Linked DNA regions of Homo sapiens: region 2 is linked to region 1. The links come from fine-mapping of genetic effects on gene expression. A gene starts in region 1. The other region holds a variant in brackets. All regions are shown on one strand. Distances are between the middles of the regions.

Region 1 (2,914 bases):
TTCCTTATCTTATTTAGTAAAATACACCCTTATCCTGCCCCTCCCTCAAAGCAAAACAAGGCATCATCATTGCCTCTTCCATTCTCCTATCTGGCAGCTGCCCCTAGCAACCAATTACCAGTTGATATGGCCTCTTGAATATTTTAGGAATCCATCTCCTTTGGATGCTCACTACCATTCACACAGGGTCCTTAAGTTTTCTCTTACTGGCTTCTGCAATGGCCCCCTTGTGGGCTCTCTGCTTATCCTTCTCTGCCCCCCCACCTCCACCCCCCCAAGTTATCTGTTCTCTACCAACAGAAGAATAGCTTAAATTGTAATCTGTCCACTCATTGCCTCACCAAGGCATAGACGATTCGTGATTTGGCTCCTGTTTTCTTCTCCAGCCTCATCTTCTTCAGCAACCTAAGTTTGAACTTCAAGACCTGTAATTATTACTCATTCTTCTCAACAAATTATTTGTCCCCGTGCTGCATCTCCTTTCTGTTCGGATCCGGATTTGCCATCCCACCCCTATTTTTGTAGTAGAAAATGCCTATTTATCTTTAAAACTCTAACCTACGTTAGTAAAGCTATCCATTCTTCACGCTGTACATCTTGATAAACCATACTTCCAATAGCAATGATTTGCTTTCATGTATGTCTGCCCACTAGACTGGACATTCCTTGAATGGCTCATACCAGGAATATAGTTGGTACTCAATTTGTGGGGAGCAAAGAGAGATAAGCGAATAAATGTCAAGACATAAGAATCTGTAGCTGCTAACTTAAATTTACGGATTTAGTGAAACTACTTCTCACAAGCTACCAAATCACAGTGCCATGGGGCCGCAAGATGATCTCAGTGCCACACCGACACCTGCAGAGTCGCAGGGGGGTCCGACACCCCTCAGAAAGAACTCGCAGACCGTCCGAGAAAGCGAATTCTCCAGGGGATCAGCAGTTAGATGAGGCCCAGGGCAGCCACGAGACCCTCCAGCCAGGGTAGGCGGCTGACCCGCCTCCTGGGATTTGGCCCGTGACAAGCCACGTCGCCAGCTCCGCTCTGAATACCCCCGGCCACGCCACACGAGCGGCCTCAACCCTGAGACGCCCAGGGAACATGAGCTGACCCTCTAGAAGCAAGATGGCGGCCTCCGCTCTCCCCTCCTTCCCCCAAGAACCCCCTCCTGGTCCCCAAAAGAAAGACAAGGACACCGCGGCAACGACGCCGAGATCCGGGAACCTCCGCGAGGCCCGCGGCCACTCCCGAGCCCCCGGGAGATGACTTCACCTCGCGGAGCTCAGAGAGCCGGGGGTGGGGCCGTCGGAAAGACAGCGCGGACAGCCCTCAGCTTGCAGGGGGCGGAGGCCGGGCAGCCTGCGCCCTCCGAGCCACTGTTCTGCGGCCCAGGCCCATGATCACCCTCCTCTCAGCCCACGGACAGGAAGTCGCTCCCCAGCTGCCCCGCCCCGCTCCCCAGCGCCCCGGAAGTGATCTGTGGCGGCTGCTGCAGAGCCGCCAGGAGGAGGGTGGATCTCCCCAGAGCAAAGCGTCGGAGTCCTCCTCCTCCTTCTCCTCCTCCTCCTCCTCCTCCTCCAGCCGCCCAGGCTCCCCCGCCACCCGTCAGACTCCTCCTTCGACCGCTCCCGGCGCGGGGCCTTCCAGGCGACAAGGACCGAGTACCCTCCGGCCGGAGCCACGCAGCCGCGGCTTCCGGAGCCCTCGGGGCGGCGGACTGGCTCGCGGTGCAGGTGAGCGATGCCCGCTCGGGCCGCCCGGGGAGGGACTGGGGCCACCCGGGCGGCGGCGGGGGTGTGTCCGGGCGGCGGCGGGCCGAGGCCCTGACGCGGGTTCGGGCTGCCGAGATTGCACATCCCACGTTCTGCCCGGGGACGAGCTGCGAGATGAGCCCGGCTGGAATCCGGGGCACCGCGTTCGCCGCTGTGGGGCGAGTGAGCCCCCGAGAGTGAGCGGCTGCGGAGAGGTCCCCTGCGCCCGGCAGCCGGTCTCAGTTGGCCTCGTCCGAAGGTCACCCCGCACCTTTCGTCCACGGCGCCCAAGTTCCCGCCCGGGCGGTGCCCGCGACCTGGGGCAACCCGCTGCCGCCGCAGTCCCCGCGCCTCACTCCACCCCTCTCCCCTCCTTCCCTTTCTTTCCACTCCTTGCCTGTGCTAGAGCCGCTGCTTTTTAAGCATCTCCGCCAGGGTTTTTTGTTTGTTTGTTTTGTTTGTTTGTGTTTTTTTTTTTTTTTGCCAGTTAAAGGAATGGTTTTTCAGACTTAAAGTCATTAGACTCTCCGCACTGAACTGAATACCTGGCCTTGGGCGCTTGCACAGCTTTAGCCCATTTTCAGGTAATCTAGCTTCTAATATGAGGAAGAGAATACATTTTGGGAGAGAGGTGTTTCCTCTGTGGTTCGTTTCTGAAAGATTTCCAGAAGTGGAAGATGTGATTGGCATGCTTTAGCCTGGATATATGTGTTTAAGTAGACGGGGGTGACGGCACACAGGGGTGGCAGTGTTGTTTCAGGATTTAGGGAGAATTAGGGAGTTAACTGGCCTGTGCTCGGAAACCTGAATGTCCAGACTTGTAAGAGCTCATCCAAGTGTGGCTGAGGTAGTGTGAGAAGTCCCGTGCCACGCCCTACGTGTCAAGCTGAAAAGCACCTAATTTACAAATTGTGTGGTGTGGGGGGGGAACAACCTTTATAAAACATGTATCATAAGTTAATTCTTTTCCAGAAAGTAAATTGCAACTTTAATCATATTCCAGAAATTGGATAACAGATTTCATTGGTAAACTCTTACAGTATGTTTATTAATGTATTTCAGTGTGTCTTATTAGCTCATGTTTTTCTGTCTCTGGTAATACAATATTATTCTAAACCGACTCCTGTATTAAAATAATACACTATTATTGTGAAGTATTATC
Region 2 (2,914 bases), 31 kb before region 1:
TCCTGCCCCCACACATGCATAGACTCCCCCATTATCAACGTCCACCACCGGATTGGTACATATGTTACAATTACCAAACTTACATTGATACGTTATTATCTCCGACAGTCCACAGTTTACATTAGCATTCACTTGGTGTTGTACATTCTATAGGTTTTGACAAATGTATAATGACATGTATCTACCATTATAGTATCACACAGAGTATTTCCACTGCCCTAAAAAATGCTCTGTGTTCTACCTATTCATCCCTCTCTCCCTACCTAATTCCTGGCAACCACTGATCTTTTTACACTTATGTATTTTTGCCTTTTCCGGAATGTCACATACTGTAGTTGGAATCATACATTATGTAGCCTTTTCAGATTAGCTTCTTTCACTTGGCAATATGCATTTAAGTTTTCTCCATATCTTTATATGGCTTGATAGCTCATTTCTTTTTAGCACTGAATATTTCATAGTTGATATTTCACAGTCATTTTATCCATTCACCTACTAAAGGACTTCTTGGTTTCTTCCAGTTTTCAGCAATTATGAGTAAAGCTGCAATAAACATCTTTGTGCATGTTTTTGCATGAACATAGTTTTCAACTCCTTTGGGTAAATATCAAAAAGTACAATTGCTGGATCATATGGTAAGAGTATGTTTAGTCCTTAAAGAAACCACCAAACTATCTTCCAGAGTTGCTCTACCATTTTGCATTCTTACAAGCAATAAATGAAAGTTCCTGTGGCTTCATATCCTCATCAGTATTTAGTGTCATCTATTTGTAGTAGTAATTCACTGTTTTAATTGGCATTTCCTTAGGGATATTTTTGCTATATGTAAAATGTGAGATACAGATGCTCCTCAACTTACCATGGCGTTATAAACCCATGATAAATTTATCTGTGATGGATTTAACCCATGGCAAACCCATTACAAATCAAAAATATCACAAGTCAAAAATGCACATACTACCACCCAATAAAGCCGTAGTAAAGTCAAAAAATCACAAGTTGAAGCATCATATGTAGGCAACCATATGTAATTTTACTAGATATGAAATAGATACAGAATTCTAAGTTTTATCCTTTTAGTGCTTTAAACATATGATTCATTACCTTGTGGCTTCTAGTAAGAAGTCAGCTGTTTATGTGTCATTGTTATCCTGTCTACAATGTGCTGCTTTTTCTGGCTCTTTTAAATACTTTTTTACTTTTGTTTTCAGTAGTTTCATTACAACGTGCCTAGATGTAGTTCTCTTTGCACTTATCCTGCTTAGAGCTTGCCAAAATCATATATTTCACCAAATTC[G/A]GAAACACTTTGGCCATTATTTCTTTAAATTTTTGGTCATTCTCTCTCTACTGGGACTCCAGTTACACATATTTAAACCTCTTAATGCTGTTTAACAAGTCACTGGGACTCTGCTCATTTTCTCCCAGGCTTTCTTCTCTGTTTTTTTCAGATTGGATAATTTCTATTGATCTATTTTCAAGGGTACTAGTTCTTTCTCCTTTTATCTCCAATCTACAGTTAAGCCTATCTAGTGAATTTTTAAATATCAGATACTTTAATATCTAGCTCTATAATTTCCATTTGGTTATTTCTTTTTTTTTTTTTTTTTTTTTTTTTGAGACAGAGTCTCGCTTTGTCACCCAGGCTGCAGTGCAGTGGCACAATCTTGGCTCACTGCCACCTCTAAGTCCTGGGTTCGAGTTATTCATGTGCCTCAGCCTTCCGAGTAGCTGGAATTGCAGGTGCCTGCCACCATGCCCAGCTAATTGTTGTATTTTTAGTAGAGATGGGGTTTTACCATGTAGGCCAGTGCCACCACGCCCAGCTAATTTTTGTATTTTTAGTAGAGATGGAGTTTCACCATGTAGGGCAGTCTGGTCTTGAACTCCTGGCCTCAAGTGATCCGCCTGCCCTGGCCTCTCAAGGTGCTGGGTTTACAGGCATGAGCCACTGTGCCTGGCCTTTTATGGGTGCAAGAAATCCTCCTGCCTCAGCCCCCAAGTAGCTGGGACTACAGTCACGCACCACCATGGCCAGCTAATTTTTTGTATCTAAAGAGACAGGGTTTTGCCACATTGCCCAGTCTGGTCTCAAACTTCTGAGCTTAAGCAATCTGCCCACCCCAGCCGCCCAAAATACTGGAAATTACAGGCATGAGCCACCGCATCCAGCCTGGTTATTTCTTTACGGTTTGTTTCTCTGCTGAGATTTCCTATATGTTCATTCATTTAAATTATGTTTTCTTTTACATCCTTAGGTATAGTTACGATAACTGCCTTAAAATCTTTGCTAATTACAATATATGAAGCATTCTGTGGTTGGTCTCTAGTGATTGTCTTTTCCTTAGAGTGTTGGTTGATCACATTTTCCTGTTTCTTCTTATGTCTAGTAATTTGGGGTTGTATCCTGGACATGGTCAGTGAATGATAAATTGGAGAAACTCTGAACTCTGTTATGTTCTTCTCAAGAGTATTAATTTTTGTTGTAGTAGACAGATAACTTTTCAGAACTCAAACTCCAAACTCTACCCCCTCTATGTTGGGCAGTAGCTGAAATCTTTGTTCCATTCTTTTAGCCATGTATGGGCTTCTCAGGTTCTGCCCTGCACAGGGATAGTGCAGGAATCAGCCAGATTTCCAAGTAGATTTTATATTCACAAACTGGGGCTCCTCATCTGTGGCTTTCTCCTTTCTAGAATCTTCTCCCTCACATTCCAGCTGTGGTTGCTCCAAACTCTGACTCTTAATACATAACCTGTATGATTATGAGTCTGTGAGTATTAGCTACCCGGTGCAAGCCTTGCTGGAGCCCACCCTCAGGTAAAGAGTCATAAGAAATGGAAAAACTCACCCAATGCCTTTCTTTTCCTCTAAATTTGATTCCTTTCCATTTTCTGCCTACTTTGGTCCCTTCTCA

The links. PIP is the estimated chance that this variant, and not a neighbour inherited with it, causes the effect.
Region 2: its variant is fine-mapped to the expression of RALA in whole blood (TOPMed, PIP above 0.99).

Annotation. Positions count from the first base shown.
Region 1 is chr7:39,622,092-39,625,005 of GRCh38, forward strand. It overlaps RALA (RAS like proto-oncogene A), which reads left to right and starts at 1,481. Exons shown (of 5, transcript NM_005402.4): 1 at 1,481-1,734. It overlaps LOC107986785 (a long non-coding RNA gene), which reads right to left and starts at 1,386. Exons shown (of 2, transcript XR_001745175.2): 1 at 342-1,386. RefSeq lists an enhancer at 1,357-2,204 and silencers at 1,531-2,040, 2,635-2,684.
Region 2 is chr7:39,591,588-39,594,501 of GRCh38, forward strand. It overlaps a transcript of YAE1 not described here. Among named protein-coding and RNA genes, the nearest start is that of YAE1, 27 kb to the left of the region's middle. The variant G/A (reference allele first, on the strand shown) is at 1,298.